Linked DNA regions of Homo sapiens. The protein of the gene in region 1 interacts with the protein of each later gene in a biochemical or structural test. Each region holds a gene or a part of one and is shown in the gene's direction. Other genes may lie near its edges. The genes, in order: RYR2, HOMER1 and FKBP1B.

What was found.
Region 2: the proteins of RYR2 (region 1) and HOMER1 form a complex in vitro, tested with the Homo sapiens proteins (one study listed by BioGRID).
Region 3: the proteins of RYR2 (region 1) and FKBP1B form a complex in vitro, tested with the Homo sapiens proteins (one study listed by BioGRID).

Annotation. Positions count from the first base shown.
Region 1 is NC_000001.11:237,045,107-237,048,858, forward strand, and holds part of RYR2 (ryanodine receptor 2), read left to right. Parts: intron 1-3,752. UniProt on the Homo sapiens protein: Cytosolic calcium-activated calcium channel that mediates the release of Ca(2+) from the sarcoplasmic reticulum into the cytosol and thereby plays a key role in triggering cardiac muscle contraction. Aberrant channel activation can lead to cardiac arrhythmia.
Region 2 is NC_000005.10:79,374,503-79,378,254, reverse strand, and holds part of HOMER1 (homer protein homolog 1), read left to right. Parts: intron 1-2,057; coding exon 2,058-2,246; 3' UTR 2,247-3,752. UniProt on the Homo sapiens protein: Postsynaptic density scaffolding protein. Binds and cross-links cytoplasmic regions of GRM1, GRM5, ITPR1, DNM3, RYR1, RYR2, SHANK1 and SHANK3.
Region 3 is NC_000002.12:24,059,724-24,063,475, forward strand, and holds part of FKBP1B (peptidyl-prolyl cis-trans isomerase FKBP1B), read left to right. Parts: intron 1-1,090; coding exon 1,091-1,203; intron 1,204-3,295; coding exon of another isoform or gene 3,296-3,340; coding exon 3,341-3,469; 3' UTR 3,470-3,752. UniProt on the Homo sapiens protein: Has the potential to contribute to the immunosuppressive and toxic effects of FK506 and rapamycin. PPIases accelerate the folding of proteins. It catalyzes the cis-trans isomerization of proline imidic peptide bonds in oligopeptides.

The DNA of each region.
Region 1 (3,752 bases):
TGAATTTGATGGGACATTTCATATGTCCTGATTAGAACATCTGGATTATTATCTTGAGCAGGTCATTGTCTATTGGATTTGTATTCAGCACCCCAGCACATTGAGGCATCTTTTTGACCACTGTCCACAGAAAGCTTTTTTGCTTTTCTTTTTTTAGAAGAGGTGTGAGATCACTGTTAAGGGAAGTAGAGGTGAAATCTTTAATGGGCTGTATCTGTGAGTTATGTATGCTGCTGTAAATTAATTCCTCATTTGCAAAGGGGTTTGTCACTGTTTAGCTTGTACCTGTCTCTCTGGCATCTCTGTTCCATTTGCTGCTGCTTGTCGAGTTGGCTCACATTCCTTCCAAATAGTTATGTAGATGAATGATCATTGATTCAGTGGCTCCCCCATCTGTTGGAAACCTGCCCACTTGGGTCTGTTTATCTTTGAGAGAGATTGAAAATATGTTTTTGTAAACTCTGGATATGCTGGGACACTTATTTTATGAGAGAAAAATCCTATCATAAAATAAGCTGTCAGCTTGTAATGGATTCATTCACTGTCATATCCAAACATATCCATGATTTGGAATGTGTGTTTTATTTTAAAGATTTTATTAACTTACCAATGTAGCATCAAACTGTCATTTGGCATTTAAAAACACGCATCTTTTTCGTTATGGTCCTCTTTTTTTTTTTTTTTCCAACAATCATACAGAATGTTATAGAAGATATTCCTCTGACTTTAGGAAAACCATGGTATAAAATGACCTTGGTCAAGGTTTTTTTTTTTTTTTTTTTTTTTTTTGAGTACTTTGTCTTTCTTTCATTTGTCTAAGCACAGTTGAGTTACCCTTGTGGTGTACTGTGTCATGTAGTTTTGTATTTACCCATAGATTGAGACTTAAAGCTTAGTCCTGGCTGTAAGAATGATCCTGATAGGAATGCTTACGGTCTTCCTCCTGTCTTCTTTTGCAGAATGAAGTATTTCATTATAGATTTCTTCTCAGTGTTCATACATCTTGTTCCACAATGACAAGAAGCATCTTTAAATATACTCATCTACAAATGGTGACAATTATGCAGTATAGATGCTGGTGTACAACACTGCATAGTAGTTTGGATGGGAATACTTAGCCCTAGTTTGTAGAGGTCCAGGAAGGTTAATGGTATGAAGTCAGTACTCAGCAGTGCAGAACGAGGACTAAAATTCAAATCTTAGGCTAATAGTGTTCTTTCCAGGAGAGAAAGGCTTCTTTATCTGCTGTTCAAGTATGTTTTAGGTTTATAGCAAAAGAATACCAAGTCAGTTTTCTCAGCTGTAGGAATGTCACAGAGTACAAAGGAAAAGATGGAATGAGCAGTGGAAATTCGCACTTTTTGCTCCCTTCATAATGAAGCTACGAGGAGCTTTAGATAGATATGCACTATGGTATTTTCCCAAGGAACTGATGGAAAGCCCACCCAGGCTTACATCATCAGACTTATTTTATTTTAACTTAGAAATTAGCATGTACACATTGGCAGGAAGGGCAAGATCTAAAACGCTTAGGGCACTAATTTATTTGACATTCAATTGTATTTGTACTTTGGCTTCAGATAAGTGTTTTTATCACGGCTGAATTACCCAAGAAAGGACTCCAGCAGCACTGGGTGACTGTGCTTCTTTAGATAGCTTTCGGGAGAGAGGGAGAGGTGATGAAGCACACATTTTTCCTGAAACTCTGACATTGTGGGAATTAGATTAATTCAGAAAACATTTGTTGAACACCGTCTGTATGCATAGCATGTTAAGGAAGTATTCCAAATAAGTAGGGAAGTGGTTTGCAGCTGTAATTGCAAAGAATAGATATAGAGGATGGCATGGAGCAATCAGAAGGAAAAATGCATAAACAAACTCCAAAACATTAGGGTAGGAAGAGGCCTTTAGAAAACATTACCCTGTCCACCCCATGCCTCTCTGATATTGCAGATAAGGAAACAAAAGCTCAGAAAGCCAAATGACTTGGCCCAGTGTCACACTCCAAGTTAGTGGCATTTAGTAATGGAGAGTATATGAAAATCTGTGAAGAATTTCCAGAAAGGAGGTTTACCAGCACATCATTCTTTATAGAGTAGATTTAAACCCACTTTTCCATTTTATCCTTAACTTGACCTTCATAGAGTTCTGTCTCCAAATCTGTCCTCTTGTCCTTCCAGCCAGTGAAAAGGAGGTTTCTTTTGTCTTTTCTAATGTTACAGTCCCTCACATGGCCTGAATCTTGGTCCTGGAAGCCAAGATTGGAATCCATCCTTTCTAGCCTTTTTTTTTTTTTTTTTGCCTCCCTATCCACTTACTCCTTCTGGTTTATCTTGAAGCCTGTTAATTTCTCCCATCTTAAAATGTCTGTCTTTGACCCGGATACCTTATTTGGTTGCTCCCCTCCTGCAGAAGTGGTCTTCTCCCACTGCTTGTACCCCTCTCCATGTAATTATCTAGCTTCTCTTCCTTCTTCAATTTACTTTCCAGGATGTTGCCAGTAACTCCCTCCTTGCCACGTCTAAATGTCCCTCTCTGTCCCTATTCCCTTAGATTCCTTCTCAAGCTCTACTACCCTGACTTTCCTTTTTGAAGCTACTCTTTTGACTTTGGGGACATGGTACCTTCTGGGTAATTTTTTACATTTCTGATCATGCTTTTTCCAGGTGCTTTTCATTCCTTTTACTCCAAGTGTGTGGTTATCCCAAAAGATTCTGTCCTATTTCCTGTTCTGGCTCTTCTGCCTTCATGAGCTTATCTATGTCACAAAATCTGGGATCTCTTGAATAACAGAGTCTGAAAAGACTTAACAATGACTTCATCCAGCTCTGAGAGCCAGAGAGATGAAAGGAATGTTCCCAAAGCGACTCTTTTTTGTAGGAGAAACCCACCGTAGATTCGACAGCCCTGGGCCTTCACTTCAAGCCTCTGTTTAGACTTCCCTCTTGCCTCTCGGACCCCAGAAACACCAGCTTGACATCATTGCCTGTTCGGTTCCCTAAGCGACTTTCCTTCCTAGTGTCTCTGCTGATCAGTGGCACTGCCGTTTGTGGCTGTGGCTCCAGTGTGATCCTAACCTTCAGAAGACCTGAGTCTGAGGCCGGAATCCACCAGCACCTAGCTTTACGGACTTAGAACAACAGTGCCTGGCTCATGGGAGTGGCTCAATGCATTTGTCTAGTTCTCTTTCTTCTCTTCTGCATCTAATTTGTCATCATAGCCCATCGTGTTTCTCTTTGCAATCCAACTCAGATTTCGATGTGTTTCATACTCCGTTAGCTTCTTGTTCTGATCCCAGTACTCATTTCAACCTTCGTCATCCTTCCTCCTGCAACAAATCGGCAACCCACCTAGAATCCGCCTGCCATTTTAGTCCTCCTGAAACCCTCGTGTCCATCTCCCAGCCTCAGCTCACATCCTTGCATATCCTGTCTAATTTCTCTACTTGGCCTTTTATGATCTGCCCCTTGATACCTTGCTTATGCTTTTCATCCTACACAGAGTTTTCTTGGATCACTCTAACCAATTCCGATTTTACCTTTCTCCGACCATTTATCACTAATAATTAATAAAATGTATGGAACTGATTGGGAAACTCAAGCAATGGTCAGAGAATGCTCTGACCCTGATGCTCTGTGGGTGAGTTGGGACCGTGTTGGGCATCGGTTTCCCATGATGCTTGGTGCACTGTTAACTACAAGGACAGACTTGAGAGAAATCTTGTGGCAAGGAGAAGATCGGGACAAGAGAAA
Region 2 (3,752 bases), on another chromosome or scaffold:
TGAGCCAATTTCCTTTTTTTTTTTTTTTTTTTGAGACAGAGTCTTACTCTGTCACCCCAGGCGGCTGGAGTGCAGTAACGTAATTTCGGCTCACCACAACCTCTGCCTCCCGGTTCAAGTCATTCTCCTGCCTCAGTCTCCCGAGTAGCTGAGATTACAGGTGCCTGCCACCACGCCTGGCTAATTTTTATATTTTTAGTAGAGACGAAGGGATTCGCCATGTTGGCCAGGCTGGTCTCGACCTCCTGACCTCAGGTGATTCAGCCTCCCAGAGTTCTGGGATTAAAGGCGTGAGCCTTGCCCTAATTATTTTTCTTGAAAGTTTAATTTTTACATTGTGAAAAAAATTTAGTTCTTAATTTTTTTTTCATTCTTTATCCAACTTGAGAGAAGAATAAATTTTTGGAAAAAAGTGTCTGTAATTTCAACACCAGAACTATTTTTTATTTCCTATTTCTACATTAATTCCTAGTGTTTGTCCTCATGCATACGAATTTTTGCCAGTTTCAGTGAGCTACTTTATATTCTGTTCTTTTCATTTAACATTTACCAGATTGTCTTTCAGTGATCTAATTTTTTTAAAATTTCCACTGTCCTTTAGACTTGATAGAATTCCTTTAGAGATTAACATTTAAAGGATGTATTAACATTTTGAAACATCTCATTTTCTGAGGCTATCATGTTGTGTAACTAACATCAAGATATTTTCGTTGTCCCATATAGTTTATATATCTTAATGTAAATTGTGTCAGTCACTTAGTTTCTCTCAAATGTAAAAGTGAGCTTTCCAGAACGGATATATAACAACTTTCAATTCATTGCTTATCTGAATTGCTTATTTAAAGTGTAATAGTTGGCTTTCTCCCATTTTTCTCAATCTGATTTTTTTAACCAAAATGAAATCATTAGCTTGATTTATGTCATTTTATTTTTTTAGACTCACTTTATTATATTTGTCACATTTAGAGACAATTTTAAAAGCAGTAATAGGCCAGGCGGGGTGGCTCACGCCTGTAATCCTAGCACATTTGGAGGCCGAGGCGGGTGGATCACTGGAGGTCAAGAGTTCAAGACTGGCCTGGCCAACATGGTGAAACCCCGTCTCTACTAAAAATATAAAAATTAGCCAGGTGTGGTGGCGTGTGCCTGTAATCCCAGCTACTTGGGAGGCTGAGGCAGGAGAATGGCTTGAACCTGGGAGGCGGAGGTTGCAGTGAGCCAAGATTGCACCATTGCACTCCATCCTGGGGGACAGAGTGAGACTGTGTCTCAAAGAAAAGAAACAACAACAAAAAAACAAAAGCAGTAATAACTGCTAAATAATTTTTAAGTGTGCCAGAGTTTATTCTGTCAAAAACAAATCATTTAGTGTTTTTTTTGTTGTCATGAACATTTGATTTCCTTTTGTCATTTTTTTCCCTTGGTTTGCAATGTATTGGAACTGTTAACTTATAATTCTCTAATATGTACAGTTATTATGTATCTTCACTACAGTTTCTAGCAATTGAGTGATACTCTCTACATATACATTTATTTGATATTGAGGCAAAGCAAAGAATAACATATTCAGAGGATCCTAAAATCACATTTTAGAGAGTTACTTTCTTGTCTAAATCTTTCTCTAGAGTTGCCAGTAAACAGAAAAAGTTAATTTCTTTTTCTTTCTCTGCCTGCTTTCACCTGTGATTGCTAATAATTATGCATTAGGAGAAATAGGTGGACAGCAATAAAAATGAGATCTAAGTGATCCATAAATAGGTCTTCAAGCCTGTCTTGGTATTTGAAGTACCTAGAGTGTTGCCTGGCACAAAGTAATGAGTCAGTAGATTTTCGTTGAGTGGTTAGATAGATTGATAACCAAGCCAGTCATTAAAATCGTATTGCTCTCTGGGATGGCCAAGTCTAAAATCTCCTTAAATTGTGCTAAATTAAGATTCTGCAGCTCATCCTGACAGTCAAACTGCATTGATTACCGCAATATTGGTAATAACAGAGAGTTGTATTGTTTTCTAAGTGATGAATTGACATATATACATGTTACACTTTTGTTTCTGAAGGAAGTAGAAATTCGGAACAAAGACCTGGAGGGACAACTGTCTGACTTAGAGCAACGTCTGGAGAAAAGTCAGAATGAACAAGAAGCTTTTCGCAATAACCTGAAGACACTCTTAGAAATTCTGGATGGAAAGATATTTGAACTAACAGAATTACGAGATAACTTGGCCAAGCTACTAGAATGCAGCTAAGGAAAGTGAAATTTCAGTGCCAATTAATTAAAAGATACACTGTCTCTCTTCATAGGACTGTTTAGGCTCTGCATCAAGATTGCACAAAAAAAAAAAAAAAAAAATTGAATATCACTCCTCCAGGAGGAGGATCTTTTGAAATTGGAATTGTATATTTCACTGTAAATTTTAGAATCCAGCTTGTAGCTAGTTGGGGAAAAAAGATGAAAAACTTGAACTACAAATTACCTCCATGTATATTATTGGCCATAGTTAACTAGAAAGTTATAAATAGACACTTAATGCAATCTTTTTTCCTGATATTAGCCAATGGGAGAATTAACAATGTCTAGGTCACATCCCCTTTTTGTGTTCAACACAGTGAAGATTATCTGCTTTTTAAATTAATTTATTTACGATATCTAGAGCTGTGTTTTGTGCAAAAACTTAGTGATGAAAGCCTGTCTTTTGTTGTAATCTGAATAATTTCTCAGGATATTTTTGCACTGCTGAGAAGCAGTGCCATTACCAATTAATTCTTGCCAGGAGTGAGAGAGAGCTGTATCTTTAATTGAAATATACTATAACTGGGTGTATAGAGTTCTTCCCTTTTTTGTGCTGGAAGATATTTCACTCTGGTGACTACTCTGGTACACTCTGGTGTTCTCTAATCTTGTCTGTTGTATAGTTTACTTTTCCATATTGATTCCATGTATTTATGAGAAGATATTGTCTCCCATTTTATTACACATTTTAAAGCCAACTAACGAAGGCAGCTGAGTCCCTCAGAAATTTTTCTTTTTAAGTTTCTAATAAATTTGACACACAGTACTGAAATACAGCAGCCCGTCATTGACAGGCTGGTCTAGCAATGTTAAGTATATTTACAGAATATGCAGTTACATTTATTTATATATTTTGCAAGAAATCTTTTCTGAATGATCAATGCATTTCAATTTACGAATAATAATGGTTATTGGGGAACTGTTTATTATAGATAATTTTAAGGTGTATAGCTATTTTAAAGGGGGTCCATTTACATCAAACAGCTGATCAGAGGACTCTATCTAAATTGTGATCGTGGCAGATAGAGATGGAGTCATGTACTCTATCTGGCTCTACACATCAATCACATCTTGATTCAAACCTCACAAGGCAATATTCTGAATTGTTAACTAGGTATTTCAAAACAGGAATTAAATTCAATAGGCTCTTCTCAGTGAACAGGTTTTAATGTTGTTTTGATGTAATTTTAAAAGACTTTTAGCAAACATGCATTTCTTTATATGATATATTTCTTTTACGAAGCTATTTTAAAAGTAAGCCAAGTGCTGTCTAGTCTGCTTATAAAGTAGGAATTGCATCAGAGTACATATATTCTTGCTGTACAATGCCTGTGATGTTGAGGAGGGTTCTTTTTTAAAGTGTATGCTTGAGTAACTGACTCTATGGAGTCTATAAATGCACTGACTTCTTGTTTGTACCCCAAAATGATCGAATTGTTAAGTACAAAATTAAGCTAATTAA
Region 3 (3,752 bases), on another chromosome or scaffold:
TCTCTACTAAAAATATAAAAAAATTAGCAGGCATAGTGGCAGGTACCTGTAGTCCCAGCTACTCAGGAAGCTGAGGCAGGAGAATCCCTTGAACCCGGGAGGCGGAGGTTGCAGTGAACCGAGATCACACCACTGCACTCCAGCCTGGGCAACAGAGGGAGACTCCGACTCAAAAAAAAAAAAAAAAAAAAAAAAGTTGAAAAGTGCAGAGGAATTTGAGAAAGGTATGACCTGAAAAGGACACAGAGGGAAGGGAAGGAAGGGGAGAACAGAGAGGGTTATAAGCAGGCCAGAGCCGGATTGTGAAGTGCCTGTATGCAAGGTAGGCATTTGGATTCTGCTCTGGGGAGCTATTGAAGTATTTTGAGCAGGGGAGTAATAGAATCAGATTTGTGTTTAAAGAAAAAAAAAAATCAGTCTGGATGCCAAGTGGACAATGAAATGGAGGCGAGTAAAAGAGGATCAAAAAGACCAGTTAGGAGGTTGTTCCTGTGTACAGGTGAGATAAGCTGGTGACTTGGTCGTGGTAATAGAAACAAAGAAAAGGCCAGGCACAGTGGCTCATGCTTGTAATCCCAGCACTTTGGGAGGCCAAGGTGGGTGGATCACCTGCAGTTCAGGAGTTCAAGACCAGCCTAGCCAATATGGCAAAACCCTGTTTCTACTAAAAATACAAAAATCAGCTGAGTGTGGTGGTGGGCGCCTGTAATGCCAGCTACCTGGGAGGCTGAGGCAGAAGAATCGATTGAACCCAGGAGATGGAGGTTGCAGTGAGCCGAGATTGTGCCACTGCACTCCAGCCTGGGTGACAAATTGAGATTCTGTCTCAAATAAATAAATAAATAAATAAAAATAGAAATGAAGAAAATAGGTGGATTCCAAAGATATGGAGGACTTAGTGATAGGCAGTATGTGGGGGTGAGGCAGAAGGAAGTGTCCAGATTTCCTGCTTGGGCAACAGGATGGATGGGGAGGATCGGAAGAGGAGCAGGTGTGTGCAGAAAAGGCATTCCATTTTAGACATGTGGAATCTGAATTGGGAGTTTACTCATGACCACAGCTCTATTGCACCCGATTCTTGCTTTGACAGGAATGCTCCAAAATGGGAAGAAGTTTGATTCATCCAGAGACAGAAACAAACCTTTCAAGTTCAGAATTGGCAAACAGGAAGTCATCAAAGGTTTTGAAGAGGGTGCAGCCCAGGTAGGATGAGGATTCGCATTAAAGGGGATCTGGGGAGTTGGGGATCTGGGATCAGCACTCTGCCCTCCACCTCCACCTTCACCCACTCACAGACCACTACTGCTTTGACTCTACAGCCAGGGCATGGCAACGCCATCTGGTGTCCCCTCCTGGCTTTGCGTCCCCACCCCTCTCCTTGCCAGCATACCTCTTTTGTGTCCCTGGGGGCTCTCATCCCAAGCACATCCCCCTAGGCTTGCTCAGAACTAGCTGAGAGAGCCAGGCACGGTGGCTCACACCTGTAATCCCAGCACTTTGGGAGGCCGAATGGGGTGGATCAGTTGAGGCCAGGAGTTCAAGACTAGCCTCACCAACATGGTGTAACCCCGTCCCTGCTGAAAATACAGGCGTGGTGGTGCATGCCTGTAATCCCAGCTACTTGGGAGGCTGCGACAGGAGAATTACTTGAACCGGGGAGGTGAAGGTTGCAGTGAGCAGAGATTGTGCCACTGTACTCCAGCCCAGGCGATGGAGTGAGACTGTCTCAAAAAAACAAAACAAAAAAATAAACTAGCTGAGGTCTACCAGTTGCCTGGGACTGAGGTAGTGGAAGAGTTGGGGTGGAGTAGGCCAAGAAAATTTTTCGTTTTTTCGCTTTTTTGAAAAGAATTTCAGAATTACAAAAATATTAAAGAAATAGTACAGAGTTCTTCTATATTCTATCCAGCTTCCCCTTCTTGCATAACCATAGTACAATTATCAAAACCAGGACATTCACACTGATACAAATTACTTACTTATTCAAATTTTTGATTATTCAAAATTCAAAAGTAGATTTAAATTTCACCAATTGTCCCACTAATGCTGAGTGGGTTCTCAACAACTGCTGTGATGAGCCCTGGTTCAAGCTGTTCTTTCTTGGTCTGTCTGTGAAGTCCTATGATGCTCCCTTACGATAGGTCTTGTTTTTGGTGTTTTTTTTTAGAAAGAGTATCACTCTGTCACCAAGGCTGGACTGCAGTGGCGCAATCTTGGCTCACTGCAAGCTCCGCGTCCTGGGTTCACGCCATTCTTCTGCCTCAGCCTCCCTAGTAGCTGGGACTACAGGCGCCCGCCACCACGGCCGGCTAATTTTTTTGTATTTTTAGTAGAGACGGGGTTTCACCGTTGTTAGCCAAGATGGTCTCGGTCTCCTGACCTCGTGATCTGCCCGCCTCAGCCTCCCAAAGTGGTGCGAGCCACCGTGCCCGGCCTGTTTTTTGTTTTTTATTTATTTATTTATTTTGAGACGTAGTCTCACTCTGTTGCCCAGGCTAGAGTGCAGTGGCACAATCTCAGCTCACTGCAACCTCCTCCTCCCAGGTTCAAGCAATTTTCCTGCCCCAGCCTCCCGAGTAGCTGAGATTACAGGTGTGCACCATCACCATCACGCCTGGCTAATTTTTGTATTTTTAGTACAGACGGGGTCTCACCATGTTTGCCAGGCTGCTCTCGAACTCCTGACCTCAGGTGATCCACCTGCCTCGGCCTCCCAAAGTGCTGAGATTACAGGTGTGAGCCACCACGCCCGGACTTTTTGTATTTTTTAGTAGAGACAGGGTTTTGCCATATTAGCCAGGCTGGTCTTGAACTTCTGGACTCAAGTGATCTGCCCACCTTGGCTTCCCAAAAGTGCTGGGATTACAGGTGTGAGCCACCACGGTTGGCCACAATAGGTCCCCCTTGCCACCTTGCTGGTGACTCTAGTCTCTAAACCACTTTAAATAACTGCCCCTGTCACCTACTTGAGTATTTACGTGTGCTATTCATACACCCTCTTTTCCTAAAGAGGCCTATTCTTTGGAAGAGGGTGAACTATGAACAAATGGAAGTGTTTCAGTCATACACAAATTGAATAACCAGTAATGTTTGTCAGATGCATGAATTTGAGACCACTCTGTGAGGGTTACTGCCCCACAGTCACATCTCTGCTGAGGCAGAATCTGCGTTTGTTAAAGCTGTTAGCACGATTTCAATGTATCCCATGTAAAATTCATCTGAGATCTTCAGAGTTAACATTGAGGATGGTTTGGGAAAATGCCATAGTCATCTAACTTTTTTCTTTTAAATCAAGCTGGGTCCTCTTTCTCCTCTCCCCATCTGCCCCCATCCCTGCTAGATGAGCTTGGGGCAGAGGGCGAAGCTGACCTGCACCCCTGATGTGGCATATGGAGCCACGGGCCACCCCGGTGTCATCCCTCCCAATGCCACCCTCATCTTTGACGTGGAGCTGCTCAACTTAGAGTGAAGGCAGGAAGGAACTCAAGGTGGCTGGAGATGGCTGCTGCTCACCCTCCTAGCCTGCTCTGCCACTGGGACGGCTCCTGCTTTTGGGGCTCTTGATCAGTGTGCTAACCTCACTGCCTCATGGCATCATCCATTCTCTCTGCCCAAGTTGCTCTGTATGTGTTCGTCAGTGTTCATGCGAATTCTTGCTTGAGGAAACTTCGGTTGCAGATTGAAGCATTTCAGGTTGTGCATTTTGTGTGATGCATGTAGTAGCCTTTCCTGATGACAGAACACAGATCTCT